4 separate regions of the Homo sapiens genome follow, and all the other regions are linked to region 1. Evidence: fine-mapped expression QTL. A gene starts in region 1. Each other region holds a variant in brackets. All regions are shown on one strand. Distances are from middle to middle. Region 1 holds the start of TMEM250 (transmembrane protein 250). Region 2 overlaps NACC2 (NACC family member 2). Region 3 has its middle 25 kb from the start of TMEM250. Region 4 has its middle 40 kb from the start of TMEM250.

Region 1 (8,099 bases):
AGTCTCCCACAGACCTGGAGCCGCTGGGTCCCTCCTGCGCTTGGCGGCACCACAGGCACCAGCCCAGCAGATGGCGCCAAGCCACTGTCCACAGCGCAGCAGGAGGCCTGACGGGGACAGGGACGGGGACAGGGAGGCTATGGGGACCCCGGCTGGACCTCACACGTCAGGACAAACCCGTGACAAATCCCCAGCACACGGTGGTTCTGGGGTGACCGAGCTGTGGCCAGGCCGGGGGCGCAGGAAGGCGCAGAACCCGGGAGTGGGCAGAGGACCAGAAGCAGCTGCGGCCGGGGAGGAAATCGGTGTCCTGGGAAGCTACTTGCGCTGTGCACGCATGGACTGGGTCACGAGGCCAAAACCCACGGTGGCCACGGCAAGAGAGCCCTGGGCCAGCGGAGACACAGGCCACCAACAGGCGGGGGTGGCTTTGTGTGAGGAGGAAGGGGAGGCAGGAGACAGGGGACAGGGGGTGTGACGGAAGGGGCAGCCCAAGATTGAAGGCGCCTCCCAGAGATGGGGCATTCGAGCTGGGTCCTGAAGGGCGAGTAGGAGCTCGGAAGATGGAGAAGGGACAGAGAGAGAGAAAAGGCAACTGTAAAGAGGTCCAGGCTCCTGCCCTGTACCCTGGTTTCACAGGGAGGTAGGGGAGGCTGGCGGTTCTGGAGGGTCAGCCAGGGAAGGGCGACCCCCACTGTCTTCTGTGAAGGGTGCCAAGGGGTGGCCTCAAGGACAGCGTCCAGCCACGAACACAACCAAGATCAGAACCCACACCCGGGGCACAGACGCTTCCACGTGTGTGGAGCTTACAGATTCTCCAAACCGAAATTCAAGGCAGACAGATGGGACTTGCCCTATAACCCAAGGCACATGAAGCGTTTCCCCGACCATGGCGCCTCTGCTGAAGTCAAGTAATAAACAACTCCGCACTTAAATACTCATTCTCCTGGAAAGGGCAACCAGGGCTCCCCCTTACTGTCCCCTCACCCCAAACCCCAAGTGATATCCCAGCCTTGGAAGCAATGGGCAGCAGCAGCAGGGTTAGCCCGGGAAGCCACCCTCACAGCTAGAGTGGTCATCCCCATCCATGGGCGAGCAGAGACTGGCGGGGCAGGTGGCTGACCAGAGAGTGTGGAACCATCAACACAGACAAGGCGACAAGGGGACAGCTGCACCCTTTGGGAATTCAGGACACAGAACCCTCCTGTAGGGAGAAGCACGTGACTGCGGGCCCAGCCTGAGGTAGTGGCGAGTGGGGGCCCCAGCTTTCCTGGAGATTCTAATACAGGAACATGTTTCAGGACACTCGGGCTGACATGCACTTCTTTTTATTTGTCCAAATCCGGCTTTTTTTTGTTTGTTCATGCTGAAAAAATAAAATCAGAAAGTACAGAAATGTTAAAAAAACAGTAAAATATATTCATCTCTTTAATCCCACCACACATAGATCACCTCTGCAAACATTTATCTGCTTCCAGGACTTCACCCAGAAACGGACACCTAGGAGTACGTCTGTGCTGATGAGGGGTCACACTAGACGTGACTTTGTGAACCACTTTTTTTTTCTTTTTTTTCTTTGTTTTGCGACAGTCTCACTCCGTTGCCCAGGCTGGAGTGCAGTGGCGCAATCTCCGCTCACTGCAAGCTCCGCCTCCTGGGTTCATGCCATTCTCCTGCCTCAGCCTCCCCAGTAGCTGGGACTACAGGCGCCCGCCACCACGTCCAGCTATTTTTTTTTTTTTTTGTAGTTTTTTAGTAGAGACGGGGTTTCACTGTGTTAGCCAGGATGGTCTTGATCTCCTGACCTTGAGATCTGCCCACCTTGGCCTCCCAAAGTGCTGTGATTACAGGCGTGAGCCACCATGACCGGCCTATGAACCACTTTTGACTCAGCCTGGGGGACTGTCTTCTGGGCACAGCTGGCAGTGGGTTCACCTGACCCTGTTTAGCAGCAGAAGCTTCAAGGCCTGTTCCTAATTTTGTATTTTCTTAAGGAAGGTCCCTTAAACCACAGAAGCCTCAGGCCCCACAAAACCTGCATCCGCCCCTGGCTGCAGGACACTCCAGGGTCTGGATGCAGCCAGGGCCAGCCACAGCCTCACTAGCTGACCGCACCTTTAAAAGTACGCGCATTGGCAGCTTTGTTCTGACGGCCACACCCCCCAAGAGACCTCCTTGGCCTTTGGCTTGGGTGATGCTGACCCACATGGAGGGGTCTCTGGCCCAGCAGTCCTGGGACATCCCCTGTATGAAGACCATATGTCTGACATGGCACTTGCCACCCTTTCTGGTCATTTGCCCCTCAGCCTGTCCCTGTCACAAGATGACAGGTGCCTCGAGGGTGGGGGCTCTGCTGTGCCTGTGTCCTTGGTACCCAGAGCAGGGTAGCAGCGTGGGGGCAAGTGCAGGCACGCATGCTGTGCTTCTCTGGGCGGGTGCACAGTGGGAAGCAGGGGGTGTCTAATCCAGAGCTGGAGTCAGGGGACTGCAGGGCAGGGAGGACACGGGAAACCCACAGCAAGGAGCGGGGCTGTGGCTCTGCTCCTCCCATGGCACAGCCACCAGATGGGCCAGGTGTGAGCCCTGATCCATGGACATGCGACCACCCTCACCAGCACGCGAAAAGTCGAGTGACGGGTGACCACCTGCTTTACACGCCACCCTCTATCTGGCCACGGGCGCCATCTCACGGTGCCGGCGTCCCAGCACGAGCCACATGGGAGGGGAGAATTATCTTTGGTTAGTTTGTCTCTAATAGTCCTTAAAACAGAAGACAAAAAATGAAGACAGGCATCAAGATGCTATTATCTCAATGTTTATATATTTAAAATGTTTTATTTATTTTTGTGGAGGCCATGTTGCCAGCCAGGTCGCCCAGGCTAGTCTTAAAACTCCTGGGCACAAGAGATCTGAGGCCGGAATGACAGGTGTGAGCCACCACGCCCAGCCTTATCTCAATAGCTAAACGTGTGGATCTGCCTCACATCTGGAGAGGCAGAGAGGTGAGCCACCAACAGGACTATTGAGGAAGGAAGGAGACCTGTTTATTGATTTTAAGTTTTTTGTAGAGACAGGGGCCTCACTATGTTGCCCAGGCTGGTCTCAAACTTCTGGGGCAAGTGATCCCCCTGCCTTGGCCTCCCAAAGCGGTGGAATGACAGGCGTGAACTAGCGCTTCTTGCCTGACACGTTTCTTTCGGAATATTTGCCGCCAGCCATCGGTAAAGAAAACAGGCTCTTGGCCTTTTTTGCTGTGCTACCTCCTGGTGGCCTTTGCTCGTCCAGATGTTCCTCGAACTCCTGCTCATGTCGGGTAAAGGCGGCTCTCTCTCCTGTGGCGGGGATGGGGCCACAGTGGAGAAGGTAGCTGTGCCAGCCCTCAGGGCGGCCCTGGTCCAAAGGACAGGGGCCCAGGAGCCAGCTCGCCGTCCCGGGAGGCCTGCAGCCAATGACGGGCCTGGTGGGCAGGAGGGCCCAGCCCCCTTGTTCCAGTGCCTTGAATTTGAAGGGCCACCCACTTTACGGTCGCCCCAGGGGCTGCTGACCCTGCCTTCCCCTCCTACCCAGCAGCCACACCCAGGAGCGCTCCCCAACACATTCCTCGCTGGAAACCCCCAGGACAACCGCCAGCCTGTACGAACCAGGCGTGAGGACACTAACACAAGTCCCCTTCCTTCACTGGGGGGCGGCGGGGGGGCGGCCCTGGGGCTGCTGCTGGGCCTGCTCGTGCTCCGGGGCTGTCCCTACTTCGGCTGCCGACGTCGCCGCCGGCCCACCGGGCCTCGCAGCTACACACCCGATCCGTGCCGCCCGGGTCCGCGTGGCGTCAGCCGCCCCCACCCTTCCCCGCCCTCCTGGAGCCTGGGGGGCGCCCTCATTCCCGCCGCCGCCCTGTCCTCCCAGCCCCAGGCCGCGCAGGAGGCCTTCGCACACGGCCCCGCGAGGACCAGACCTGCTCCCGGTCCCTGGGCCGCCCACCCCCGCCGGGAAAGCGGCTTCCTCCGGGGCCCGGCCCCACCCCAGCGACGGCAGCAGCGCGCCGGGTCGCAGACACCTCAGTCCGGGGCCAGGACCACGGTCAAGCCCTCTGCTGGGGCCAAAGGACTGCTCCACGGAAGCGCGCCTGCGCACTGCCTCTCCACGGGATGCGGTAGCGCGTGCGCGGAGGCGCGGCCCAGGAACGGCAAGCGCAGGCGCAGAAGACCAGGCGCGGCACCGAGGGCGTTCGGGGGAGGGAACGCTACGGACTGCTCGCAGCGTGCGCACGCACGCACGCACGCACGCCCTCGGGAAGCGACGAGTCCGGGACGCCCAGCGCGGGCCCGGAGCAGGGGGAAGGGAAGTGCGGCTCGGTCGGCGCGGGTGGAGGGGGCGTGAGGCCGCCCTACGGTGGCCGTCGAGGGACGGCGCTACGGCTCCCACGCTAGGCCAAACGCCTCCGGCGGCCGCGCCCGAGAGCCCCTTCACCTGCAGGGCGACCCCAGCCGGCGACGCGTGAACCACGCCCTCAGCCGCCTTGCCAGCGCCCCCAGCCGCGCGCCCCAGCACCATGCGGCCGCCCTGCGCACGGAGCCCCGAGGGACAGGGGCACCCGCAGGCCCGGCCCCTAGCACCGCCGGCCGGCCCCGAGGTCCGGGACGCCGGCGCCGCCGCGGAGAGGGCACCGGGTGAGCTGCGGTCGGGGACCCGGCCTAGGCGGGGGCCGTCTCCAGGGCAACGCGCGGCGCGGGACCCGGAAGTGGCTCCGGCAGGGGCTCTGCAGCCAGGGGGCCCGGCGCGGCGCGGCGCAGGCCCGGTGCTCACGCGGAGTTGGCCGGGGCCCGTTGCGTCTCTGCGGCCCCGAGGAAACAGTCCTGGGTCCATGGGCCGGGCCGAGCGGGCGTCTGCAGAAACGCAGGGACCCGGATGGAGCCGCGGGCCGCGAGACCCTGCGGGGACACAGCTCCGCCGAGTCGCGTTTGAGTGGCACCGCCATGGCCGGGGTCCCGGCCGGGGCGAGCTCCAGGCCAAGGCCGGCCTTAAATAGGGCCGCTCTGGCCCCTGCACCCCGTGGAGGAGCCGGGCGGAGGGAGAGGGCGAGGTCGGGCCCCTGCGGGCACGGGAGGGTCAGGCGGCCCCGGCCCCTCCCTCCTCCGCCCTGGCCAGGTCCCCACGGCAGGGCCCCAGGCTGAATCTGAAGGCAGGCGAAGCTCTTGGCAACAGTCCCCTGTAATGTTACCAACTTTCCTGCTCAGATTTTATTTCCTGACCTTTGAGTTCATTCCGTCTACAGATTATTTCGGCAAGGTATAAACGGCCTTTACTAGGTGAAGCTGGAGAGCCAAATGCCGCCTCTGCTCTTTGCAGCCCAGTCTGTAAGGGCCGCTGCCAGGCCCCGGGCCGACCCCACTGTGCACGCCAGGCCCAGCCCCTTCCCTCCCACAGCTACCCACAAAGGCAGTGCTATTGGCACCCCCATTGGACAGAGCAGGAGCCGTCTTGGGGTCAGGTGACCTGCCCAAAGTCACTGCTAGGGAAGGACAGTGCCAGGGTTCAGGCCCAGCAAGGTGACCCCACGGCCCCCGAGCCGTCCATCTGGCACCCAGCAGGTTGCTGGAGTCACCTGCTCCCGCCGGGCTCGTTTTCGGTTCACCTGCGAGCCCTGGAGTCCCTTTTCCCGGCCCTGTGGTGGCTTCTTGCAGATGCCATTTAAGGGCTTGCATCAGCCCTGGGTCAGGCAGCCGCAGAAGACCAGGGCAGTAACGGGCAAACTGCCTAAGAGCAGAGTGTGGTCCAGCTAGTGGGGAGCTGCGAGGATCCTGCAGGAAAGAGCCACTCTTGCCCCTTCCCATCCGTTTTGGCATTGACCACTTCCGGGGGCCTCCCCTGGCCACTGTCCCCAAGGCCCCCTTTCCCCAGTGCTGCCCTAGAACAAGCACTTTGGCTTCCCCAGGTGGTGGGCCCCTTGGAAGTATCCTTGGGAGGGTTTGTGGAAAAGAGCCCAGGAGTGCCTGCAGATCCCGCCCTGGACTCCATTTTCCCGTAGTCCTGGTGCTGGAGTTTGTGTCCACTTTCGCCAGCTGATTGCCTGGGGAGGGATCCGCATGGTGTCCTCATACTGACGTGGGTTTTGCGGCTCTCCCCGCAGGCCGACGCCTCCCCCCAGGGTCAGCTGCGGGCTCCCAGGCCTAGGCGCCCATGACCCCTACGCCAACAGCCGCCTGGACACCGCCGCCGCCACTGCGACCTAGCGCCGCCGCCGCCGGGGCCCAATGCCGGTCATGCCCATTCCGCGGCGGGTGCGCTCCTTCCACGGCCCGCACACCACCTGCCTGCATGCGGCCTGCGGGCCCGTGCGCGCCTCCCACCTGGCCCGCACCAAGTACAACAACTTCGACGTGTACATCAAGACGCGCTGGCTGTACGGCTTCATCCGCTTCCTACTCTACTTTAGCTGCAGCCTGTTCACTGCGGCGCTCTGGGGTGCGCTGGCCGCCCTCTTCTGCCTACAGTACCTGGGCGTTCGCGTCCTGCTGCGCTTCCAGCGCAAGCTGTCGGTGCTGCTGCTGCTGCTGGGCCGCCGGCGCGTGGACTTCCGCCTGGTGAACGAGCTGCTCGTCTATGGCATCCACGTCACCATGCTGCTGGTCGGGGGCCTGGGCTGGTGCTTCATGGTCTTCGTGGACATGTGAGGGCCGTGGGTGCGAGCTTGATGTATCGTCCCGGCCTGTGGCTGTGTTCTCTCCATGGGTGGGGTCGGCCAGCGCCTTCCCTTCGCCCATCCCCCAGGCAGTCGCTGCTGCCCGGCGCCCACGGAGAGAAAAGAAAGGGCTGAGACTTCTGTGATGGGGGCGCGGACACCACCCCTAGGCTGGCTTCCTGGACCCACCCTCCCCGTATGCACTCTCAGGGGCAGCGCCCACCTGCCGGTGGCTCCTGCTCACATGTCTTCGGGTCGTACTGCGGGGTGGGCCCTCCGTTCCGCCTCTCTGTGGGCCTCTCTCCAGGACCACAGCTGCCAGGGACTTTAGACATCACCCTGGGAGGCCCCTGGACACAGAGGGCTGTGTGCCCAGGAGCAATTCCGGAGGGGGGCCCTCCTGGCTGCACAGCCCCTTCTGCGTGCCCTGGCCCCAGCCCCAGCCAACGGGACACGGAAGGCTCCCCTCGCTGACACACCACACTGCCACAAAGCTGCTTACTCTGCCCTGGGCCGCCTGAGGCCTGGCACTGCCCGCGGACCACCCTGTGTGTGTCATCCTGAGGGGCTGTGTGGGTCCTGAGTCCCCAGCCAGCCTTCAGGGTCCCCTTGGATTGTGTAGATGCAGTCTAGCGGGGGGCCGGAGAAGGGCTCAGGTGGGAGGGGCCTCAGCAGGCTCCCAGCTCAGGGGCTGGCCTGGGGGGAACCCTGGGAGCCAGGGGCTGACTCCAGCAACACTGGCCTGTCTGCCTGTTCTGGGAGGGCTGTGAGGATGTCTTGCAGATGCTCTGGATTTCTGCGGAGGCACCTCCATTCCTTTCTGGCTTTTTTTGCGGGGGAGGGCTTTGGGCCTCTTTCTTTGAGGGAACACCGTCAAAGAAAGCCTGGGAGATCGAGGCTTCAGTGAGCCAGGATGGAAACGCGTGTCCCAAGTGTCCGGAGCAGGCGGCAGAGGCCTCAGTGCGGCAAACACAGCCCCAGAGCCTGTGTGGCACCAGCAGCATCTTAGAGCCCCAGGTATATGCTGAGATCTTATCTCACGCTGTCCTCCAGTGTCTGGGGGGCCCAAATGATGGCACAGGGGCAGGTGGGCTGGAGGGGCGCAGATGCCTGTGTTCAGGGAGGGTGGCCACCATGGGCCGAGGTCTCACCCAGGACCCCTTGCTCTGCTCCTCAGCCTTGCAGTCACGGCAGCACTATGGTGGACTGCCCATGGCCGTGTGACTTTGGGGGCAAGTGGGAGGGCGCCCTGAATAATGATTGCAAGGACAACAGGCAGAGGCTACCCTAGAGCAGGACACAGGGTGTGGTACTGACAACCCTAGTGTCACCTCAAATCCATGTCCCCACACTCTGGGCATGGGTGGGACTTGTGACCCTACCCTGTCAGGCGGACCAGTGGCCCAGGAGCCATGAGGAC
Region 2 (8,099 bases), 43 kb after region 1:
AGAACCTGGGTTGGGTTTTGGATGCCCTGAGAGGTGGCATCCCATGTAGGGGCAGCGAAGGGGCCTGGGCTCAGAGAAGGAGAGCACAGAGATGGGTGCGGGGGCCCTGCTGGGATGAGGCTGTACAGGCTGGGGGTGCAGTACCGCTCTGGCACCATCCCTGGTGTGGCGTGGCTACAGGGCCCTGCCAGGAGGCCCTTGTGGTCAAACCGTTGGCTTTTGTGGGGCACAGTGGCATGGGCTTTGGCTGGCAGCCACGCCCGGGGTAGGGACTGTGTGTCTCTGCCAGCTGGGCCATGACTACAGTGGGTGGCCAAGGGTGTGGGCTATCAGGTCAGCCCCAGGCCTGGCCCAGGCAGCCCCATGGCCAGCAGAGCCCATCTGTAGCTCTCCAGGAGGGCCGCCTCTCCCTGGGGAACAGCTCCAAAAGCTTTCCTTGGGGAACAGGTGGCAGGGCTAGCGGCTCCTTCCACAGCACGGCTGTGGCCTGGCCCCTGGGGCCTTGGGGTCCTGGAAAGTTGAGACTTCCCCGGCTGCTGCCTGTCCTGGTGGCCTGAAATCTTACAGGCTTCAAGATTTCGTAACTTTCCTATTCCTAGTCGCAGAATGGGTAGTGGGAGGCCTGAGACCCATCTGGCTTCTGCAGCCACGCTCCAGGGCTCTGGTGACCCTGGAGTGCATTCGGGGAGTGCCGGCCACGGCAGGGCCCCAGGAAGGAGCTCTGGGGGGCCTCTGGCCTCTCTTCTGCCCTCGGTTGAGGGCCAAGTGGCCTTTCCACTCAGTGAGTCAGCCTGTTCCTTCGTGTCATTCTCAGCAGGCCATGGGGTGCCCATGCCTGCGGGTGAGGAGGGGCTTGCTGCCCCACCTGCTGGCGTCCAGCCTGTACAGCCTGGGGCCTGTCTGGAGATCCTGGTTCCTTGGCTGCACCTGCAGGGCCCCCGGAGTCCACGCATTGGCTTCTGCAGTTGGCATCCTGTGCTTGTAGGAGTGTCTCCTGCCTGGAAGCCAGAGGATGGCACCCCGTTCCATCAGGCCTGAAGGTGGCTGGGTGCCAGGCAGCCCTTCCTGGGTGTGGGACTCTGGGCAAGTGCCCTGCCTCTCCCTGGTCTCCCCCTCAGCTCAGAGAGTGCAGTTCCCACCCTGGGAGGATGTCTGCACCTTGCAGCCTCTTCAGCCCTTAGCCCTCTTGGCAAGAGCTCAAGCTTTCTCTTGTTAAGGACGGGACGCACAGACATACGTGAGTAGATTTCAGGTTACGTGCCCTAAACTAATACCGTGTGCACTTAAAAAAAAAAAAAAGAAGAAGCTATGATTGAAGTCAAATTAACATATTTACCTTCAGTGCTCCCTCGGGAACCGTTAGGGAATCGGAGAGGGGCGGCGGCGGCGCGGCATCATGCCGGCGACGGTGCTAAGGGCATCTGCTCCCCGTGGGGATGGGTGTGTGCTCCTGAGTTTGCCTTGGCTTCCCCTGCTTACCCACAAGGTCGCCTGGACAAGGGGCGAGAGGCCCTGCCCTGAGAGCCTCAGTTCCTGGAGGGGACCACGCTGGGGGTGCTTACTGGGGACCAGGATGCGGCGGTGGCTGTGGTGCCACACTCGTGATGACAGCCCTGCCTGAGGGGCTCGCTTTGCTCAGCTCTGATGTGGCTGAGATTCAGGTGCCTGACCTGTCCCCCAGCCATTCCCACGCCCCTTTCTGTCCCGATGTCGGGGCTGGGCTGGCCCCTCTTGCCTCGCACAGGTTTATGGCCTAGGAGTACATTCCCCTGGAGTCCCGTCTATGCATCCAGGTACGGTTCCAGGGCCAGTGAGCGGGCCACGTCCCACCTCCAAGCCTCAGTTTTCTCATCTGTACAGTAGGGTAATGGTATTTCTCCTGCGCTTACTTTAAGGATTAAATGGAAAAACCTGTATTAAGGATTGCCATTTAAAGATTAAATGGAAAAGCCTGGGCCTTTAGTTCCTGAAATGAGAGAGCCAGAATTATTTGGAGAACCTGCCCCCAGATGTGCCTGTCCCCCTCATGAATTCTGCATTCCGAGGGACTGAGCTTCGTGGAATTCTGGCGTCTTCTGGCCTGCAGGCGAGTGGGGCTGGCCACAAGGTTGCGGGGGGTGGGGGTCCTGGGGACCCCTGCCAGGTGGTGGGTATGCACCCGGCCTTGGGGATGAGGGTTTGAGTGGGTGCCTGGTCCATCCCACTCTCTACCACTGTGTCTGTAAACTCGTGCATGGATTGTTTAAAGATAGTACGGCAAACCTCGTGATTATAAAAGTATGATTGGGCCGGACGCGGTGGCTCATGCCTATAATCCCAGCACTTTGGGAGGCCGAGGCGGGTGGATCACGAGGTCAGGAGTTTGAGACCAGCCTGGCTAACATGGTGAAACCCCGTCTCTACTAAAAAGAAGTACAAAAAAACCCAAAACAAAACTATGATTGGACTGATATTATTTACGTGGTTTTCACTCCCAAAGGCACACCTTTGCGTATAAAGCACAAGTCAGTATTCATCACTGATTCCTTATTCACTTTTCAAACTACTTTCACTTACCTTTTATTACTTTATAAATAATTTTAAGCACAATTTTGTTGCCCCCTTGCCTGCTCCCCGGTGTGGGGGTGGCCAGAGTCCTTGGGGTCCCCTCGCATTTCCCGGGTGACCACACAGCTGCCCCCTGCTCAGGTGTCACCGCCTGGGGACCTTCTCCTCTGTGAAGGGCCTGTTCTGGGCTCTTGCCCCTCCCTCCTCTGTGCGTTTCCCTTTTCTTGATGGATTTGTAGAATTTGTAGAATTCTTTCCATACTCTGACCACACGCCCTTTGCTGAAGATACATATGTTGCAAAGGTCTGTCCTTCTCGGCTTGTTTTTTCTCTTAGTGTTGGTCTTTATTTTTCAATATTTTAATGAAGCACGACTTATCAACAATGTCCTTTGTGCCCTGTTAGGGTTTTTGTTGTTTGTTTGTTTGTTTTGCCAAAGGCCATGTTTCTCTTCTGCTTTTTTTGTTTTGTTTTGTTTTTTGAGACGGAGTCTTGCTCTGTCGCCCAGGCTGGAGTGCAATGGCGCAATCTTGGCTCACTGCAACCTCCACCTCCGGGTTCAAGCAATTCTCCTGCCTCAGCCTCCCAAGTGGCTGGGACTACAGGCGCCCGCCACCACGCCCAGCTAATTTTTGTTTGTTTTTTTCTCTGTCACCCAGGCTGGAGTGTAGTGGCGCAATCTCGGCTCACTGCAACCTCCACCTCCGGGTTCAAGCGATTCTCCTGCCTCAGCCTCCCAAGTGGCTGGGACTACAGGCGCCCGCCACCACACCCGGCTATTTTATTTATTTATTTATTTATTTTTGAGACAGAGTCTCGCTCTGTCGCCCAGGCTGGAGTGCAGTGGCGCGATCTCGGCTCACTGCAGGC[C/T]CTGCCTCCTGGGTTCACGCCATTCTCCGCCTAGTCCCAAGTAGCTGGGACTACAGGCGCCCGCCACCACGCCCGGCTAATTTTTTTTGTATTTTTAGTAGAGAAGGGGTTTCACCGTGTTAGCCAGGATGGTCTCGATCTCCTGACCTCATGATCCACCCACCTCAGCCTCCCAAAGTGCTGAGATTACAGGCATGAGCCACCACCAGGCCAATACATTTTTTAAAAATTGTAGTCAAATATACACAACATGAAATTCACCATTTTAACCATTTTTTAAGCGCACAGTTCAGTGGCAGTAAGAACATTCCCATGGCTGTCAACCCTCACCTCTGTTTGCAGAACGTTTTCATCATCCCTGACCGAAACTGCACCCATTGAACACCAACTCCCCTCCGCAGTCCCCCAGCCCCTGGAAACCTCCGTTCTGCTTCCTGTCTCTGAACTGTCCTGCTCTGTGCCCGCGTGTGAGTGGAACCCCGTGGCGTTGTCTGTGTGTGCCTGGTGGCTTTCACTCGGCATAGTGTCTTTGAGGTTCACCGGGCTGGGGGGTGCATCAGAATTTCATTTCATTTTTGTCGTGGTATGGGCAGGAAACCTGGCTCAGAGAACATTTGAGGAACTGGGTGTTTAGAGTCACTGAGGAGAGGAGGCTGGATAGATTGTTGGGTTAGTTACAGCACTTCTTCGAGTTCCGCAGGGCCGGGAAACGCTGCCCCTTGGGGTTCTCTTTGCTACTGGATGGAAATCATTTGCTTTTCTTTTGGTTGCATATAGGAGACTTAGGATGTCACGGGGTATGGGGTGTCATCACTACTGAGTTGCAAATCAGGCAGAGGCCGCGAAGGGTGCCTGTTTACTTTATTTCCAAGTTTTCGATGACTGTTCTTTGCAGGATCTCTTCGTGACCACACGTAACCTTCATGCAGGGCTTTGAGAAGCGGGTGTCTCGGAGTTTTGTCACAGATGCAGCAGAGGAGTGGGCAGCAGCCCCAGGGCCACAGGCACTGAGCACATGGAGGGCTGCGGGGCTGCTCCTGGGCGCTTTGTAGGAAAGCCTGGGTTCCGTTTTCAGCAGCCTCTCACTCCAGAGGAGATGACTTTGCTCTTATTGAATCTTGTGTCCCGAGCCTCAGAGCCCAAACCCAAGACCCCTGTCTCTGAGGTTTCACCGACAGGGCCTGTGGGTGTTGGGTGGGTCTCCTCCCCTGGGCGCAGTCTGCACGGGGGTGTCCTCCCCGCGTGTGGAAGACCGGGCACAGGGAGCTCAGGACAGCATCAGCACAGGTTTCCTGAGGGGGCCCTGCAGGCTCTGCTCCCGCAGGACCTGCGACCCCGAACCCTGAATGTGGGCCTATGCCCGATAAAAGAAGATGCGTCCTCAGGCACGACAGCCTGGGCTTGGCCCCAGCTGCGCGATCTGTTTGAGAAACTGTACCGCGATGTAGGAGACGGCAGGTTCACACGGAGCCGCTGCCGACGTCTACGAAAGGGAAACAGGCTCGGGGAGACATTCGCCTCCGAGTTCCAAGCCCGGGGAGAGTGGACACCCTGTAATGAGCGCTTCAGTCAGTTCGCAGCAGCCAGCCTCGGGGGAGCTAGGGAGGGCTTTCCCCCCAAGTATCCCAGCCAGGCGGCCGCAGCCAGCTCTCCCTCATCCCGGTCAGTGCCGGACTGGACCAGAATGTGTCCTGGAGTCCTGGCCACCTCCCTGGTGCCATGTGACAGCTGTCTGAGGCCAAGTCTGTGTGTGGGGGGCGTTGCAGCCTGCTGCACCCACACCTGGGGCTCCCCACTTCCTGGCCTGCCGCTTTGAGGGAGCAGAAGCCGCCATTGAGGACAAGGTGGAATCGGCTCATTTCACGCAGAACCAAGAGCGTCGGCCTGGAGGAGGTCACGTCCTCTACTGGGCCTCACGTCACTGTTTCGTGAGGATCCGATTGCTGTTCCCCCAGCCCCATACGCGACAGTGAGTGGGGGACAGAGCTCCCGGGCTCCCAGAAGGAGGCCGTGCGAGAACCCATTCCCGCCAGCATCCCCCGGCCCTGCCGACTCCGCCTCGGCTGGGAAGGCCACGCTTCCTGCCGCTCTGTGTGAGGTGTAGACGCCGAGGCTGAGTGATACATCCCCGAGCCCCGCAGGTGAGCTGGGAACAGAATGTGACCACCGACATGGGCCCTCTGGGAGTCACAGGGGATGGTCGTTCGGAAGGTCCAGCTTCATCTGTCGGTGCAGTTTAGGGTGTGACTTGGTGGAGGCACGGTCAGTATTGAGTCAATGTTGAACCAGAGATAGGTTCCTTGAGGAAGGCAGGCAGCCTTGCTGTGACAGAACGAGGAATGGTTTTGACCTGTCCGTCTGTGTTAATTGAAGGGATGATACATAATTTTAAATAACCTCAGAAATTATTAACATCTTTATAAAGAACCTTAATGTTTCTGGAATGAAGAACTTTGTTTTCTTTTTCTTCTTTTTTCTTTTTTTTTTTGAGACGGAGTCTTGCTCTGTCGCCCGGGCTGGAGTGCAGTGGCACAACCTCGGCTCACTGCAAGCTCCGCCTCCCGGGTTCACTCCATTCTCCTGCCTCAGCCTCCCGAGTAGCTGGGACTACAGGCGCCCACCACCATGCCCGGCTAATTTTTTTGTATTTTATTAGTAGAGACGGGGTTTCACCGTGTTAGCCAGGATGGTCTGGATCTCCTGACCTCGTGATCTGCCCTCCTCGGCCTCCCAAAGTGCTGGGATTACAGGCATGAGCCACCGCGCCTGGCCATGCCTGGCTAATTTTTTAACAAATTATTTGTGGAGACTATAATCTTACCATCTCTCCTGGTCTCTCACTCCTGGACTCAAGTGATCCTTCTGCTTCAGCCTCCCAAAGTGCTGGGATTCCAGGCATGAGCCACTGTGCCCGGCCAAGATCTTAATTTTTTTAAAAAAATAGTCAAGGACATGACGGAGTCTGTGCAAATCCCTGTTGGTTACTTCGGTGAGAGCCAGGGTCTGCTTTCAGGGCAGAGGGAAGGATCACCGCTTACTGCTGACCCTGCTTCTGGGCAGACCAGATACTCCAAGACCAGGCAGCATTTTAGCAGACAGAACACCAAATCCTGCTTGGACGCAAATGCAGTACTTGGCAGTAGAGGATGCATAAGCACCTTTAAAACAATTAGGAATAGACCCATTGAAACTGAGCAAATTGTGCCAAAATTGTAGCACACACGCAGCTGCTTTTCATACTCCTTATTTCCAGGTATTATGAACCGAGGGAAATCAAGTCGACTTTCTGCAAACATTCTTGGGTTGTCCATACATCCACTGGAGTCTTTTGTCTTTTCCTGTTCTCTTTGGCATTCGAGACCAATTGTGCATTTCACTTTGAGACAAGCGCCTCTTCTCCCCTGATGGGCAGGACTATACTCTGATACAGCTGGATCCACGCTCACACCCCCTGTCCACTGCAGCTCCTACTGGGGTCCTCATTTTTTATTTTTTATTAAAAATTTTTTTTTTGAGACAGTCTTGCTCTGTCACCCAGGCTGGAGTGCAGCGGTAAGACCACAGCTCACTGCAGCCTTCACCTCCTAGGCTCAAGCGATCCTCCCACCTCAGTCTCCCAAGTAGCTGGGACCACAGGTGCGCTCCACCATGCCCAGCTAGTTTATTTTTATTTTTTGTACAGACAGAGTCTCCCTATGTTGCCTAGGCTGGTTTTGGACTCTTGGGCTCAAGTGATCCTCCCACCCCAGCCTCCCGTGTAGCTGAGACTACAAGCACGTGCCACCATACCCGGCCAATTAATTCTTTATGTAGCCTAGATATTAGTCCTTTGTTAAATGTGTTCCTGGCATGTTTTTTCTACCAGCCTGTGTCTTGTCTTTTCATCCCATTACCTGTGTCTTGTGCTGAGCAAAAGTTTTTAAATTTTGATAAAGTCCAGTTTATCAGTTTTTTTCTTTTATGGAAGAACTCTCTGCCTAGCCCCGGATTCTACAAATATTTTATTCTCTTGTGTGTTTTTTTCTTTCCCCTCTAGTTTTATGTTTAAGTCTCCAATTCATTTTGGGGTTATTTATTTATTTATTTATTTGAGACGGAGTTTCACTCTTGTTGCCCAGGCTGGAGTGCAATGGCATGATCTAGGCTCACCACAGCCTCCGCCTCCTGAGTTCAAGTGGTTCTCCTGCCTCAGCCTCCCAAGTAGCTGGGATTATAGGCATGTACCACATTCAGCTAATTTTTTGTATTTTTAGTAGAAACAGGGTTTCTCCATGTTGGTCAGGCTGGTCTTGAACTCCTGACCTCAGGTGATCCGCCCGCCTCGGCATCCCAAAGTGCTGGGATTACAGGCATAAGCCACCACACCCAGCCTTTTTTTTCTTTTCTTTTCTTTTTTGAGACAGAGTCTTGCCCTGTTGTGCAGGCTGGATTGCAGTGGTGTGATCTTGGCTCACTGCAATCTCTGCCTTCTGGGTTCAAGCAATTCTTGTGCCTCAGCCTCTCAAGTAGCTGGGATTATAGGTGTACACCAGCACGCCCGGCTAATTTTGTATTTTCATTAGCGACAGGATTTCACTGTGTTGGCCATTCTGATCTCAAACTCCTGGCCTCAAGTGATCTGCTCACCGTGGCCTCCCAATGTGCTGGGATTACAGACATGAGCCACCATGCCCTGCCTTTGG
Region 3 (8,099 bases), 24 kb before region 1:
TCTCACGGCCCAGCTACCAGCCAGTCCCAGTGGACAGTTAGGGGCTGGATGCCAGGCACAGAGGAGCCAGCCTGGAAGACCACAAGCCCTTAACTGTGTTGCCCCAAGACATGCGGCCCCAGGGAGCGCAGCCTGTGAGCAGGCACAGCCCCCTGTGCCATCCCCTCCGCCAGGCACCCTGGGGGGCTGTTGTGAGGATCAAGAGATCAGAGTCCCTGTAGGTCCAGGCAGGGAGGGGCTGCAGTAGAGGAGCTTCCATCCAGCTAAGGGACCCTCCTTCCCGGGCAGCTGTTCCAGGGGTGCTGACCCAGCTCACTGAGAGGCCTGGGGCTCAGCTCCTCCCTGCCCTCCTCGCAGCCAAGTTGGCACCTGCAGACCGGGTAACCTGAGCCACTCCTGTGCGCCGGTGCTGCTGCTTTTTTTAAGAAAAGAGGGAGCCCTCCCCTTCAATAATTGATGAAAGATATTAACAATTGAATCCTGGAGAACATCTGGCAGGTAGGGAGCTTCTCACCCGGTCAGCAGCAATCAGATTAAACCAGCTTTGAGAGGCAGGGGCACGCACCAGCTGGGTGGAAGTGGGGCCCGCCCTGGCCAGGCTCTGGGAGAGGAGCTCTGCCCACTCACGACTCCGTGGCCGGTGCCTCCTCCACACGGGGGTGGCCTGGGCCTGGGAACTTCATCAGCAAGGGGGGCTCTGCGGGTCCTGGAGCCAGCCTGGGCTCCTTTCTCCCATGGCGTGCGTGGACTCATACACACGGCCATGCACACACACATTGCACATATCACACATGTACGTATGCATTTGTGCACCCACATATCACATGTGCATGCTTAAACACTGTACCACATGCGTGCACATTTGCTTGCACAGGCATGTGCACTCACCACACAGCACACACGGGTTTGCACACAGCAGGTCGTGCATATACATGCTTACATGCGTGTGCACGTGCACGTGTGCGCACATACCACTCACCCATGCACTTGTGCACGTTTGCACATCACACACACACACATGCACAGATGCACACACACAAGCACATTCACACTGTGCACACACCACACACATGTCCACACTTCCTTACCTGCCACCTCTGCCCTGACTCTGGGGGCCCATTGGAGGCTCCAGGGACCTCAGGGACCTCTTTGGGCTCTGCTCAGAAAGTTCCTTTTGTGGCTCTGCCCTTGGAGGTGGAAAGAAGGACGGCGAAGCCGGAATGCCGGGGGTCCCGCCCAGGTCTTGCATCCTCGTTGTAGAAGCAGCAGCTCTTTCCTTCTAAGGCCTGAGTGAGGAGGGGGTCGGAGGTGCGGGCCTGGTGACCAGGGGTGGCTGCTGGGGCTGGAGTGGCAGCCGGACGGGTCCTCCGATGACTTTTCTTTCTTAGAACCACCTGAGTGTGGAGACAGGCATCGTCTATGAGGCGCTCCCTCAGGCCTCCTCGGGGTGGCTACTCTCAGGACTGAATGAGCTAAGCCTTTTCCCTCACTTTATACTGTTTAAGCCTCACAACCTGTCCTTATTCCATTTTACAGCTGAGAACACTGAGGCCAGGGGTAGGGAAGAACTTGCCCAGTGCTGCCCAGCTCCAAATCAGGTGGCCAGATGTCCACAGCCAAGTTCCCCAAGCCCTCCTGCCACCCACATCCTGACCCCAGGGCTCTGCTCCCCGACATAGTGATAACAGGGCTCCACCAGCCCCCAGGGTGCCGGGAAGCCAGGGCAGCTGGCAAGGTGCAGGTCTCCTGCCCTTCCCCGGCCCACTGGGGGCCCATCTGGATGGTGCTACTCCCTCAAGTAGATTCAGTCCAGCTCTGCCTGGAGGCCCCAAGGGCAGGCAGCCCGAGCAAGGGGCTTCCTAGCAGGTGAGGGAGGCCAAGGTCTCACCTATGGGCTGAGTTGGGGGGAGAGCATCTCAGGCTCCGGAACCTTCCAGGGATTGGGGACTGGGTCCAGGAGTGATGTCTGCAGAGAGGAAATGGAAGAGGATCCCAAAGCCAGGCAGCCCCCACTGCGTGGAGGACGAGGAAGGGGAGGAGGGGAGAGAGGAGTGGGTGGGTTTGCCCCTCCAGCCCCGGGAGCCTTGGGTGGGTGACGCATAAACAATTTCTGCCCGGAGCAGACGCTGTCTGGGAGCCTGGAACGGCACCCCTGCTTTCCCTGCCCCTCTCCAAGTCCCAGCCATGGGCCACTCACACATGTAGGTCACTCTTCAGTGGGTCCCATGGGACCCGTCCAGGTGCCAGCCTCCCAGCTCCTGTGATGGTGCCCCTTCCAGGTATGCCCCCCAAATGCCCTGCCCCCAACCAGAGTCAATGATTTCCTCCTTACAGAAACACAGCTGCAGAATCCCTCAATCGTGCTTAAGCTACTGGGCTTTGGAGGACGAGGACTCTTGGGCACATTGGCCTGCTGGAGGGTCTCTGCTGCCCTTGGCCTTGGCAGAGCTGCCTGGGCCTTCTGAGCAGGTGGGCCGCCAGGCCCTGAGCATTCCTGAGAACGCTGACCCCTGGGGAAATGGCGGGCAGAGAGGATCCGAGAGGCACGCGTCTGTGTCGCAACCAGGACTGGAGCCTGCATCTTTCCCACAGGTGCCTTCTGGGGCCTCAGTATTCCCATCTGTCCAGTGGGGCTGGAGTCCCCCAAACACCTTCTTACAAAATGCTTTTGTAATGCTCGATCCACACAGCATCCCCAGGACGTGGGGCGGCACTGGACTGGAGGTCCCGGGATTTTACCTCCTCCAGTCCTTGCCATTGTCCTGGCCTCCACAGTAGAGCTCAGGCCCGTTGTGTGGATGAGAAAATCAAGACCTGGGAGCAGAAGCCTCTTGCCTGACCTACTGTGTTTGTAAGTGGTGGGCTGGGCTGCAGAGCTGGACCCACAGGGCCCGGAGTGGGTGGCGGGTGACATGTGCTTGTGCTTCGGGGGAACCCAGGCAGAGCCGTTCCCAAGAGCTAAGTGTGGGGGGCCAAGGTCTTTGTCACCACCTCCCACAGCCGAAAGTCTAATGGTGAAACACTAATTTGCAAATAGCATCCAGCCCTCCGGCTGCTGGCCCAGACTTGGAGATGGAGCCGTGACCCAGCAGAGGGAAGTCTTGCGTTCCCCATTCCTTGGACGTGTCACCCTCTGCAGAGCGCACAGCCAGGGAGCCCATGTGGGTGGGTAGGACGTGGAGACTCTGCCCTGGACCCTGGCAGTGCCCTTCTCAACAGCCTCTCCACCCACCTGCCAGCCTCTCTCCAGACCTGCAGGAGATACCACCTCAGGGCCTGACCACGTGTGCACTGCAGAGCCGGCCAGGGGGCTGTTCCTGACTCCTCCAGGGGCCTAAGTGTCCCAGCAGTCAAATTCTGCCAGCCCAGAGGCATGGACCCAGTGCACCTAGGGGGAAACTGAGGCACAAGAAGATTAAATCATATGCTCTATGATCCTGCCCAAGTCAGGATGGGGTGACCAGGGTGTCCCTGGAGCTGCCTAAATGCTAGCAGGGAGAGGGGTGAGGTGGGGGGCTGGGCTGCAGAAATGGGTGGGCCTCCGGGGAGCAGGGATTCCAGCTGCTGGGGGCCAGTGCAATCCAGAGACTGGGCTGAGGGAGCAGGCGAAAAGCCCAGTGCCCCCTCCCCGGCATGCACAGGCTTCCCAGGCCAAGGTCAACCCAGA[C/G]CCCCTGGAGGTAGCTGGGCTGGCCCCAGTGGGCACAGAAGTCCTGCTGTCCCTGTAACTGGTCCCAGCTGGTTTTAAAACCTTCCCAAGTGTGAGCAGTGGGGATGGGAACCCTCATCCTGGCTTCTTGGATGAATGCCATCAGGGTGAGGAGCTTGGGTTGGGCCTCTGGGGAGGGGCAATAAAGGGCTCCCTCCAGGGAGGCTGCAGGCCTGGCCTGGGGACCTCGGTGCAGGGGGTGGGGGTTCTTGCTGGTTCCTCACCCTCCCGGAAGCACAGGGGCAGATCCGGGAGGTCAAGGGAGGGCGAGGCCTCCACTCCCCACCCCGGCCCCCGGCCAGCTCTGCTCCTCCTCTCCCCCACTCCTGGGGGTCCTGTTGACTTGGAGGACTTGGATGGGGAGAACTGAGAGCCTTGAGTGTCCCTTGAGCGCCCCCTGGTTTCACAACCACAAGCCTGGAACCCTAGGAGGGCGGGAGACTTGTTCCAGGTCTCACGGGAAGAGGCAGAGCCAGGACTCCCTGTCCAGGACCTTGCCTCAGTTTCCCCTTCCACTGGATAAACTGGGGCCCCTGCCACCCCAGGACCTCTGGGAGACCTTGGGGATCGCAAAGGCAGCCGCCCTGGGCAGCCCGCAGGAGGGCACGGGAGGAGTGTCCCCCAGGCCATGGGGCACGGACTGACCTGTGGCCCAGCCCACCAGCCAGGAATGGGGACCGTCCTGGCGGCTTGGGCTGGGGGCCTCAGCACCTGCGTGCTCCGAGAGGTCCTCCACATCTGCATCCATGCCCAGGGTCGGGACCCCTCCTTGCCTCAGAGCCCGGCCAACCTCAGAGGCCGCCTGGGACACATGGAAACAGATGAATCATAAGTTTTAAATTTTTCCAGTTTTACAACCTGGAGACAGGCTTTTAAACAGCCTCACCAGCCAGAGGGTGGGGGTCTCGCTTTAGGAGGGACGCGGCCGCCCTGAGCAGGTGGGGTATGCTTGCCCCCACCCCCACCCAGGGATCCTTCCCGAGCCCCCGGGGAGCCTCTGGCCATGAGCGATGATGCGGAGAACCCAGGGGACTGTCCCTTCGGCTCGTAGAATAGGGATTCTGGCCCATGAGCATTGATCTCTCTGAGTTTTTAAAGGAAATTTTATTTGTTTGGGGTTTCTAGTCATTAAGTTAAAACCAGTAAAATAGAGCAAAATCAATACCTGTAGGACCCAGCACAACCAGTCTGCATTACGATGCTAAATAGGCTGAGTAAATGGTGAGCCAGGGTTAGGCTGGGGGAAGGGCCTGGCAAGTGTGGGAGCCTGGGGAGTGTGGGGAGGTTGGGGAGGGAGGGAGCCCCAGGAGGTGGAGAGGGAGCCCTGGGAGGGAGAGTGGGGTCCTGCGGGCTTCTCCTGAGCTCGAGGGGAGCTGCGAGGACTGCAGGGGCCAGTGCTGGTGGAGGCATCGGCTTTGGGGCAGAAATGGTGATCTCGAAGTCCAGAGGGTCTCAAGCCTCCCTGCTGCCCCTCACACCCTCTGCCCTTTGAACCCCAGAAGCATGCAGGGACCCTAAGCTCCCTGGATGTGCCAGCTCTGCAGAGGGTGCCGACTGCTCTAGGCCTTGCCTCCTTCTCAGTGATGCCTGACGTGGTAGTGGCAGGAGGAGGCCCTGCCCCGGGTAGGTGCTGCCAGCCTCCCACTGTGAGCCTGCCCTGGGCCCCGTCCCCACGAGTCTCCCAGAGGTGGCGTTGCTGTCCGGTCTGCAGGGAGGGCGGGCCCTGGGCTGTAGGCTTCTTGAGGCGGGCACTGGTCACAGCTGGGACTAGGTGAGAGCAGAATTAAGCTTTGGAGAATGGCTGGGACTGCAGTTGCTGCCTTGGAAAGCTCCAGAATGCTCTAGAAAGCTCGCTATGCTGCCAGGAGGCCAGAGCTGGGCAGGAGCTGAGGGTGAGCAGCCTCCGGGTTGGGGTGGGCAGAGACAAGGGAGCTCTGCCGGGGTGGGATGGGCTTAGCAGGGAAGGAAGCTGGCTCGCTGGCTCGGTGCTGGGCGCCATGAGTTTCCAGAAGCTTCTTGTCTTGGGGGAGCCACACGTGTGCCTCAGCCAATAGGGCCTGGCTGGAAAATCCACAGCTTCTGGTCTCTAGCGCTCAGCCCCTCACAAGATAGGGAATGACGGGGCAGGCGGCCTGCACTTAGCCTCTATATTTTATTTATTTATTTTGAATTTTTATTCATTTTTATTGCTTTTTGAGACGGAGTCCCCCTCTGTTGCCCAGGCTAGAGTGCGCAATCTCGGCTCACTGCAACCTCCGCCACCCAGGTTCAATCAATTCTCCTGCCTCAGCCTCCCGAGTAGCTGGGACTACAAGCATGCACCAACACGCCCAGTTAGTTTTTGTATTTTTAGTAAAGACAGGGTTTCGCCATGTTGGCTAGACTGGTCTCAAACTCCTGACCTCAGGTGATCAGCCCACCTCGGCCTCCCAAAGTGCTGGGATTACAGGTGTGAGCCACTGCACCCAGCTGACCTCTATATTTTAAATAATAGCTTTATTGAGATAGAACTCACATCGCATCCAATTTATCCAGTTAGAGCGTATGATTCAATGGCTTTCTGTATACTCACGGATGTGTGCAACTATCAACACAGTCAATTTTGGAACATTTTCTTCACTTCAGAAAGAAACCCCAGGAAATTCTGGCACGAGCTACGATGGGGACGTGCCTGGAGGATGTTGTGCTCAGGGAAAGCAGCCAGCCATGAAAAGGCAAGGCCTGCCTGATTCCTCCTCCGAGAGGCCCTGGAGACAGACAGCAGAGGCGTGTACGCCAGGGGCGGGGGGAGGGGGTGGGAACAGAGCTTCAGTTTGGAAAGAGGGAAAGCTGTGTCGATGGAGGAAGATGTTGTTTGCACAGCAACGTGAATGCACTTAATGCCACTGAGGCGTGCGGTTCAGAATCGTGAGGATGGAGTGATGGTTAATTTCATGTGTCAACTTGACTTGGCTGCTGGGTTCCCAGATATCTGTTCGAACATTTGGCTGGGTGCAGTGGCTCATGCCTGTAATGCCAACGCTTTGGGAGGCCGAGGCCAGAGGATCGCTTGAGCCCAGGAGTTTGAGACTAGCCTGGGCAACACAGTGAGACCCGGTCTCTACAAAAATAAATAAATTAGGCTGGCCACAATGGCTCACCCTGTAATTCCAGCACTTTGGGAGGTCGGGGCAGGTGGATGACTTGAGGCCAGGAGTTCGAGACCAGCCTGGCCAACATGGTTAAACCCCGCCTCTACTAAAAAATACAAAAATTAGCCGGGCCTGGTGGTGCACACCTGTAATCCCAGCTACTCGGGAGGCTGAGGCACGAGAATCACTTGAAGCTGGGAGGCGGAGGGTACAGTCAGCTGAGTTCGTGCCACTGCATTCCCGTCTGGGTGACAGAGTGAGACTCTGTCTCAAAAAATAAATAAATAATAAATAAGCTGGGCATGGTGGTGTGCACCTGTAGTCTCAGCTACTTGAGGCTGAGGTGGGAGGGACACATAAGCCCAGGAGTTCGAGGCTGCAGTGAGCCGAGATCACGCCACTCATTCCTTTTTTTTTTAGGCCCACATCACAGTTCCCTCAATAGATCTATTGTTTATCCACTCACCCATCCATGGGCCTTGGGGCTGTTTCCACATTTTGGCTTTTGTGAGTAACGCTGCTGTGGACATTCCTGTGCAAGTTCTTGCAGGTGCCTGCTTTCATTTTTTTGGGTTTGAACCCAGGAATTGGATTGCTTGGTCACATGGTAACTGTGCTTCAGAGTCTGAAGAACCACCAGAGTGTTTTCGCAAAGCTCAACCATTATTCCATTCTATTCTATTCTATTCTATTCTATTCTATTCTATTCTATTCTATTCTATTTTAATTTTTAGTCAAGTCTTGCTCTGTCACCCAGGCTGGAGTGCAGTGGCTCGATCTCAGCTCACTGCAACCTCTGCCTCCCAGGTTCAAGCAATTCTCCTGACTCAGCCTTCTGAGTAGCTGGAACTACAGGCATGCACCACTATGCCCAGCTCATTTTTGTATTTTTAGTAGAGACGGGCTTTCACCATGTTGGCCAGGCTGGTCTTGAACTCCTGACCTCAGGTGATCCACCCGCCTCAGCCTCCCAAAGTGCTGGGATTACAGGTGTGAGCCACCGCACTCAGCCCTTACCTCTATTCTATTGATTGATTGATTGATTTTTTTTTTTTTTTTTTTTTGGTAAGAGATAGAGTCTCACTCTGTCATCCAGGCTAGAGTACAGTGGTGTGATCACAGCTCACCACAGGCTTGAACTACTGGGTTCAAATGATTCTCCCACCTCAGCCTCCTGAGTAGCTAGGACTACAGGCACGCACCACCACAACTGGCTAATTTTTTTTACATTATTTTTTGTAGAGATGGAGTCTCGCTATGTT
Region 4 (8,099 bases), 40 kb before region 1:
AATTTTGACACATACTACAACATGAATAAACCTTGAGGACATTTGTTGAGTGAAATAAACCTGTCACAAAAAGACAAATACTGTGTGATTCCACGTACATGAGGTATCTAGAGGAATCAAAATCATAGAGACAGAAAGCAGAACAGTGGTTATTAGGAACTGGGAAAGGAGAGAATGGGGCTTTCGTGTGATGATCACAGGGTTTAGTTTGGGGGATAAAAAGTGTTGAAAATAGTGGTAGTAGTTGCACAAAAATGTGAAGGTATTAAATGCCACTGAATTACACACTTAAAAAGGTTAAAATGGCAAATGTTATGTTATATATGTTTTGCCTCAATTTTTAAAAATTAATGTAATATATCAAAACCCACTGAATTACACAATTTAAATGGGTGAATTATACGGTATGAGAATTATAACTCAATCAAGCTGTTTTTTAAAGTCAATGATTGTTAGAATCTTTTTTTTTTTTTTGAGATGGAGGCTCACTCTGTCACCCAGGCCGGAGTGCAGTGGTGTGATCTTGGCTCACTGCAACTTCTGTCTCCCAGGTTCAAGTGATTCTCCTGCCTCAGCCTCCTGAGTAGCTGGGACTACAGGTGCGAGCCACCACACCCGGCTAATTTTTTTTTTTTTTGAGACAGAGTCTCACTCTGTCGCCCAGGCTGGAATGCAGTGGCCTGATCTCGGCTCACTGCAAGCTCCACCTCCCGGGTTCACGCCATTCTCCTGCCTCAGCCTCCCGAGTAGCTGGGACTACAGGCACCCACCACCACGCCCGGCTAATTTTTTGTATTTTTAGCAGAGACAGGGTTTCACCATGTTAGCCAGGATGGTCTCAATCTCCTGACCTCGTGATACGCCCATCTCGGCCTCCCAAAGTGCTGGGATTACAGGCGGTGAGCCACCGCGCCCAGCCAATTTTTGTTTTTTTAGTAGAGATGGGGTTTCACCATATTGGCCAGGCTGTTCTCAAACTCCTGACCTCAGCCTCCCAAAATGCTGGGATTACAGGCATGAGCCACTGGACCTGGCCAGAATCTATTTTAAAAATCATCCAGTAGGCACTGTGTACCAGGCACTGTTCTAGACACTGAAGATTGAGCAGGGAACAAAAGCCAGCTTGGCCCTTCTAGAGCCCACCTGCTGGAGGTGGGATGGGCAATAAGCAGGGAATGGAAGGGAGGGAGGGAGGGGGCTCCCTGGAGGGCTGGGTGGGCCTCGCTAAATGGGACCCTATGACTAGGAGGGACCCCATGGGCACCAGGGAGAGACAGGGCAGCCAAGGGGGCCTCCAGGCAGAGGCTGCTGGGCTGGCACCTGCATGGACATGTCATTTATAAAGAAATAGCATCCCAGACTGGCATGGTGGCTCACGCTGGTAATCCTGGCACTTTGAGAGGCCGAGGTGGGTCAGTCGCTTGAGCCCAGGATTTCAGGACCAGCCTGGACCACATGGCAATACCTCAAGTCTATGAAAAATACAGAAATAGCCGGTGTGGTGGCTCCTGCCTGTAGTCCCAGCTAATCAGGAGGCTGAGGTGGGAGGATCGCTTGAGCCCAGGAGGTGGAGGTTGCAGTGAGCCGTGATCACACCTCTGCACTCTAGCCTGAGCGACAGAGCCAGACCCTGTTTCCAAAGAAAGGGAAGGGAAAGGGAGGGAAGGGGCAAGGAGGGGAGGGAAGGGACAGCATCCCCAAAAGGTCTGGAGAAAAGCGAAACCACTCAGGGTTTTATGCTACAGCCCATCCCCTGAGTTTCTGTAGCTGTGACAAATATATTTTTGAAAAAGAGAAGGAGTATTGAATAACTTGGGAAAATGTCTGTTGCATTTGGGTAAAAAAACGGGAGTTTTTTTACACTGCCAGTGTCAATGTGTGCCAAAGCACAGCAAGCGCGCACACACCACATATGCACACATGCCATGTACACACACACAGGTGCACATAACATCACATACACTCATGTACAGACACACATACCACGCACACCACACACATATGCACACACCCACACACATATGCACACACACATGCACACACACATATGCACACACACACATACATCTGTCATCTCCCCTGCAGATGAGGGGTTGAGGCCCGGGCAATGTGACGACCACTTGCCCAGGACTGGTAGAACTCTGTGGTGCCCTCTGGGGCAGTCCCCTCCCACCAGGCTGCCTCCTGATGGTTTCTCCCATGGTTGACTCGGCCCCAGAGGTCTGGTGACATCTCCCTCTCACCATGCTGAGTTCCTCGGATGACTGCAGCTGTGGCTGAGCAGTGAGGCCCCTGCCCAGGACCCTGGCCTGGCCCAGACTGTGTCCCCATGTCAGGGCATGTAAACAGCAAGGGCTTGGCCCGTGCCCTCAATGCTCTGAGCCCGCTGTCTCAGGAACAAATTAGAATCTCACTCGAATCCTCATAAATCTTCCATTCCTGACAAATCCAAAGGAAGATGGGGGAGAGGGGCAGGGGGGAGGGGAAGGAGCCAGGGTCCCTCGCTAATTTCTCCAAACTGCTGTTTATTGAAATGAGACACCAGGGATAAGCAAGAGCTGGATCAATAAAGGCCTGTCTAATACAATCAGCCGGGGCCGCCAGCTTCCCGCCCCTCCTTCCAGGGAACACCAGAGGCGAGGGGCCTGAGGAGCGCAGCCCAGGCCTCCCCGCTCCTGGGAACCTCCCCTCCCACACTGCCCTGTAGAAGCCGTTCACCTGCAGACACAGCCCACATCATGTTCCTGCAGCTGCTTCTCCAAGGCTGCCCCTCAGCTGGCCCGGCCTTCCCTGCAGGTGTCTGCTCCCTAGGGAGAGCCATAGGGGCCGGCTCATGGAGAGCAGGGCCCCACCCAGGCCCTCCCACTCCTGCAGTCTCCAAGCCTCACCCCTGCAGTGACCAGGCAGCCCCAGTGCAGCCACCACGCCACCCTCCCAACATGCCCCACACACTCCAGCTTCCTGGGCCCGGCCTCCTCGGACCAAGGCCTGGCACCTTGCTGTGCTGGGGTCCCTCAAGCAGTGGCTTTTCCTGAGTCATTCCGCCCACCTGCCTCCAGTCCGGTCCCGGGAATAACTGGCCACTCCTCTTTCTGGGTAACTGTGAGTCCTAGACTGGGGCCTGGGCTCTGAGTGGCCCCCTCCCCGACACATGAGCTCTTGGGGGCAGGACGGCCAACTCGGTGCTGAGTTCTTGGAAGGGGTTTTCATTTTAATTAGGTAACCAGAGGCTGATGGGGTCTTCCAGGGCTGGGATCTCCATCGGCTGCCTGCGGTGGAATCACCGACACAGGCTTCACGCAGCCCAGGCCTCGTGCACATTCTGACCCCGCTGTTTCCAGGCCGTGGTCCCACACTGGCGAAGACCCTGGGGCAGCCAGTTCAGGCTCCTGTTTTGCGGAGAGGGGCAGCAGGAATGGGGCAAATAGCACCCCCGGCAGGTGCTCACGTCTCTGTGAAGTGGATTTGACATTCTCGGGTGCACCAGGCCCTGACCGCCTGGTCATATCCAGGCCTCTGACACCTGCAGCAGGTTCCGCTGAGGGACCCTGGCAACCCTGAACCCGTCTCTGCGGATCTGGAGAGCCAACAGCAAGCTTTCAGGGTTCAGTCGCCCCTCAGACCAGGTTCGAAGACTTGAGGTCACCTAGGCTCCAGCTTCCTAGGGTGACAGACCCCCGCTGCCCCAGCCTGCCCCCCACTTTCCCAATGAGGGTCCTGTTTTCTGAGCATCCCCCTTTCGCCTTCAAAGTTGACATTTGAAAATAGCTGATTGATGACCTCAGTAAGCCCCGAATGAGTGTTTTCGAGAAAGCTTTCCCCATTTCCAGCCATCAGCTGTGGAATATTACAGGTGGGAGGAGAACCGGAAAGCCCCACAGTGCGGCCATAGGTGATGTACGGCAGCAAACATCGCTGCGGAATTAATCAATTGTTTGAAAAATAGGCCTGCGTGTGCGTGTGGCCAGCTCCACCACGGCTCTACAGACGGGCCCGGTCCATCGTCTGCAAGGCAAGGGAAATAGATCTCCTCACGGTGGCCATGTCCCTGCCAGCCCAGGTGTGCAAATGTCCC[T/C]GAAATACACCAAGGGAGGTACATTTCATTACAGAGCTGATCGGCCTTGAATCACAGAGCCCTTGGCCATTGATGGTCTTCTGGGAGAGGCCAGTGGGTAAATGGTAGGGAAGCCATTCCATACCTTCTCTCATGCACACGTTTTGGTGATGGCTGGATTAGGACCGGCTGCTGCGGTGCATGGGGTGAGGGTGGGGGATCACCGGTGCTATGTAACAGGCAGCTTTGGGAAAGGGATCAGGAAGTTTCATGTCAATCAACCAATCAATCAATCAATTAACAAATGCATTGCCAAGCTTGACTGGAGCTTAAGGTTCAGGACATCACTTGTGCTGACCTTGATGGGTGAACTTTGGGAGGTTTATCATCTCTTTCCAGAAGGCTCCAAGACAAATGTATGCATTCAGCTTTGTCAGGGTACTTGGTTAGGGAGTGAATGCACAAACGCCCAAGGAGGCCAGTGTTCAACGGCCTCACAGGTAAGGGACGGGACAGCCCTACTTCCCGGCTGCACAAGCAGAAAGAAATGGGTTGAGTCCCTGGCTGTGCTTCTCCCACAGGGCTGCATGCACCTGCTCTGACAGATGGAGGCTTTTCCTGGAGTTATCTGGCCCAGAGCAAGGTGTGCCTGTGTCACCCTGCAGGGACACAGCAGCAGAGCAGCCAGCAGTGAGGCATGAGGCCTGGCCCTCACCCATCACAGGGTGGCCACCCAGCATCTCTGGCCCTTTCTTCCTCCAGGAAACGCCTTCCCCATGGCAGGTCACCCATGCTTTCCTCCCTGGGGCCACAGGACAATGCTGCTGGAGACACGCAGTGACCCTCAAGAAACAGACCCTGGAGGGAAAGGTCCCTGGGCCATGAGGAGATGCTGAGCAGCCACCTCCAGGCCTCTCTTCCTGGAAGCCTGGGCCCAGCACCCCTCACTTGGGGCTCCTGCTACAGGAGCCACATCCCTGGAAAACCTGGCAGCTGCCACAGGAACAAAGCAACCTCAGGGGACAGCACTCTGTACCCTTGCTCCCAAGGTCTTTTGTCCACGAGTGGCCCTGTGGCCCTGCCAGTGTCCCCGGGGCTGCCACAGGGCCCTGAAGGCTGCAGCCCACAGGGGAACTGCAGAGACTCCCGGCAGGTGGGACCCCGTGGAGCCACCTGGAGCCGCTGGGGACGTTGCTCCCAGGGAGACCTTTGGTGGCTCACGGGTTGAAGGGGCAGCATTGTACCTGCAGAAAGCTCCAGGCACTGGGAGGCACGACCTCTCCCACGTGGGACGGCTGCCTCCTGCCCTTGCCCTGGAAACCCCAACTTAGTAGGCCTGGGGAGGAGCAGAGTGTCTGGGTGTCGTGAAAGCCCCCGGCAGGGCTGGCCTCAGAGGAAGGAGCTCTGACCTGGCCTCGGCCCTCGGAGCTCATAGCTCTGTCCCCACCCTCTCCACAGTGGCTGGAGTCCTGGGCTTGTGTCCACACCTTCCACCAAAGCCAAGCCCACCCTGGGTTCAGCTCCACTTCTGACTGGAGAGACCCTCCCCTCTGGCCCCAGCTCCCCCCTCTGTAGGGTGAGGGGTTGGGATGCCCCTCTCTGGTTCTGTTGTACTGACATGAATCTCTGATTGAAACATTGCTCGGCATATCTGGTGGGGAGGAAATGATACGGTTTCCTGCAAGCCCAGCTGAGAGATGATGCGATGTTTTTCTTGGATGCTTGGTTTTTAAAAAGTCCCTGATAAGGGACAAGCTAATTGGGAATTCTTGAAGAGAGGAGGGCTGGGGGCATGGGAGGCGGCCACGCTGGGAGCCGACCCCCGTCAGCCATCAGTTGAGAAAAGACTCTCTCTAAGTAGACCAGCCAATACCAAGTGGGGGAGCCCCCAGCAGGTGCCCTGACAAAGAGGGGGCCCCCACCACGAGCAGGCCCAGGGCTCCTAAATGGGGACGGGTTGGGGGGAGAACAGGGGCTAAAAGGAAATCAAAAGCAAATTATTTTCGGGATTATAGCTCTTGAGCCCCAGCGAGATATTACCCATTTTTCATAGCAGACAAAACCATTTTCCAAGGGATCAATTTTGCCTGCGGAAGTCGCCTTCCTCCAGCCCATAATCCATCATATTTCCCCATTTGCAATTTCTTGGTGTCTGAGTGTTTTAAGTTTCCTATGAATTATTTTATAAAGCTTTCTTTCTTCCTGCTGAAATGAGGTGTTCCGGCCCTGCTGGGAGGGCCCAACAACATTGAATGGGGGACTAAGGGGCCAGCAGTGTCCCGGCAGGGACGTGGCTGGACAGCTCGGGGTGGACTTGGTCAGAGCCAGCCCTGGTGGCCCCCAGACCACCCCCAGCTCAGAGTCGGCCTCCTGGGACACAGGGAGGCGTCCAGTGGGGACGGCGGCAGAGGGTCCCAGCCCCGCCAGCCGGAAGGGACGCAGGTGGGCTTGGCCCTGGTGAGTTCGGGGGAGGCCACCAGCCACTCGGGGCCCCGGGGGGAGGTGGGCTCAGGGGAAAGTTTTTGAGGAGATTTATTCTGATGCTCTGCTGAGGGGGACTCATCCTTCAAGAGGCAGCGTGTGTAAAAATTCCCCGGCCTGTTGATTGGTCTGTCACGGTGATTTGTGGCTCTTCCCCCGAGGTAATGGGAGCCACTGGGCTGGTGAAAGGCAGCCGGACAGATTGCTGAACAGAGCGGGCGGGAGGCCGCACAGCCGGCGAGATTTATTGACCTCAACCCACGGAGGCCCCTCCAAGGCTTTCAATCCCGCCTTTCAGCCGTCACCCCGGCGATGGCCGCCCGGCGGGCTCCTGGAGCCCCACAGCACAGGGCACCAGACAAGGGTGCCGAACCCCGGGGGGCCGCGCCATCTGTCCCCCCAGGAGGAGGAGAGGGCTCCATCCTCTGCTGCCCCGATTCACTGTTTGCTGGGGCTGCTGCTTTTTCGAACAATAGCTTTATTGAGATGTAATTCACATATTGTACAAGTCACTCACCTGCAGTGTACCGTTCAGAATATGCGAGAACAGTGGGGTGTTTTGTGTATTCGCAGAGCTGTGCAGCCGTCAGCACAGTCCATCTTAGAACATTTTCATCACCTCAAAAAGAAAGGCTGCCAGGTGTGGCGGCTCACACCTGTAATCCCAGCAGTGTGGGAGGCCGAGGTGGGCGGATCACCTGAGGTCGGGAGTTCGAGACCAGCCTGACCAACATGGAGAAACCCCATCTCTACTAAAAATACAAAATTAGTCAGGTGTGGTGGCAGGTGCCTGTAATCCCGGCTACTCAGGAGGCTGAGGCAGGAGAATCGCTTGAACATGGGAAGCAGAGGTTGCAATGAGCCCAGATTACACCACTGCACTCCAGCCTGGGTGACAGAGCAAGACTCCATCTCAAAAAAAAAGAAAGCCTATGTCCTCAGTCACCTCCCCAGCCCCCCACGCCAGCCCTGGCAACCTTGAATCTACTATCCGTCCCTACAGGTGTCTCTGTTCTAGGCTCTGCCTGTGAATGGAATCCCATAACGTGGTCTTTGTGCCTGGCTTCTTGCCCTCGGCCTGACGCTCCCAGGCTCGCCGTGTTTTCCCGTGTGTCAGCGCTGCGTCCTTTTTAAGCCTAAATTATACCCCATGGCGCAGTTAGACCGCTTGTTAATCCACCCGTCTGCCGGAGGACACCTGGGCTGTTTCCACCTTTTGGCTGCTGTAAATGATGCTGCTGTGACCGTGAGCTGGGCGTGTCTCTGTGGGGCCTGCCTTCATTCTCTCGGGGCTGTGTGGTCACCCCGTGTTTAACGGAGCAGTTTGAGGAGCAGGAGCTGGGCGCGTCTCTGTGGGGCCTGCCTTCAATCTCTCGGGTAGTCCCTGGAAGGGAGTTTCTGGGCTGTGTGGTCACCCGTGTTTAAAAGAGCAGTTGAGGAAACTGATGGATTGTTGACTGCTGGCCACTTCCATTTCATTTTCCACTTTTCCCTGGTTATCAGAGTCAGACGCGCTCATCATCCCAAATCTGCAAAATATAGAAAAGTTGAAGAAACACAGCGA

Evidence for each region.
Region 2: its variant is fine-mapped to the expression of TMEM250 in whole blood (TOPMed, PIP 0.99).
Region 3: its variant is fine-mapped to the expression of TMEM250 in whole blood (TOPMed, PIP above 0.99).
Region 4: its variant is fine-mapped to the expression of TMEM250 in whole blood (INTERVAL, PIP 0.99).

Annotation. Positions count from the first base shown.
Region 1 is chr9:136,115,053-136,123,151 of GRCh38, reverse strand. TMEM250 (transmembrane protein 250) reads left to right here and starts at 4,277. Exons shown (of 2, transcript NM_152833.3): 1 at 4,277-4,667; 2 at 6,128-8,099. The coding sequence starts at 6,252. The coding sequence ends at 6,671. LOC107987142 (a long non-coding RNA gene) reads right to left here and starts at 5,360. Exons shown (of 2, transcript NR_165242.1): 1 at 5,250-5,360; 2 at 1-1,366. RefSeq lists enhancers at 2,875-3,449, 3,450-4,026, 5,180-5,755, 5,756-6,331 and silencers at 3,694-4,083, 4,114-5,163.
Region 2 is chr9:136,072,259-136,080,357 of GRCh38, reverse strand. All of the region lies in intron 1 of NACC2 (NACC family member 2), which reads left to right. Among named protein-coding and RNA genes, the nearest start is that of NACC2, 19 kb to the left of the region's middle. RefSeq lists an enhancer at 4,972-5,722. The variant C/T (reference allele first, on the strand shown) is at 3,418.
Region 3 is chr9:136,139,475-136,147,573 of GRCh38, reverse strand. No RefSeq gene overlaps it. Among named protein-coding and RNA genes, the nearest start is that of TMEM250, 25 kb to the right of the region's middle. RefSeq lists an enhancer at 1-774 and a silencer at 2,057-2,369. The variant C/G (reference allele first, on the strand shown) is at 3,668.
Region 4 is chr9:136,155,305-136,163,403 of GRCh38, reverse strand. No RefSeq gene overlaps it. Among named protein-coding and RNA genes, the nearest start is that of TMEM250, 40 kb to the right of the region's middle. RefSeq lists an enhancer at 6,391-6,891. The variant T/C (reference allele first, on the strand shown) is at 4,076.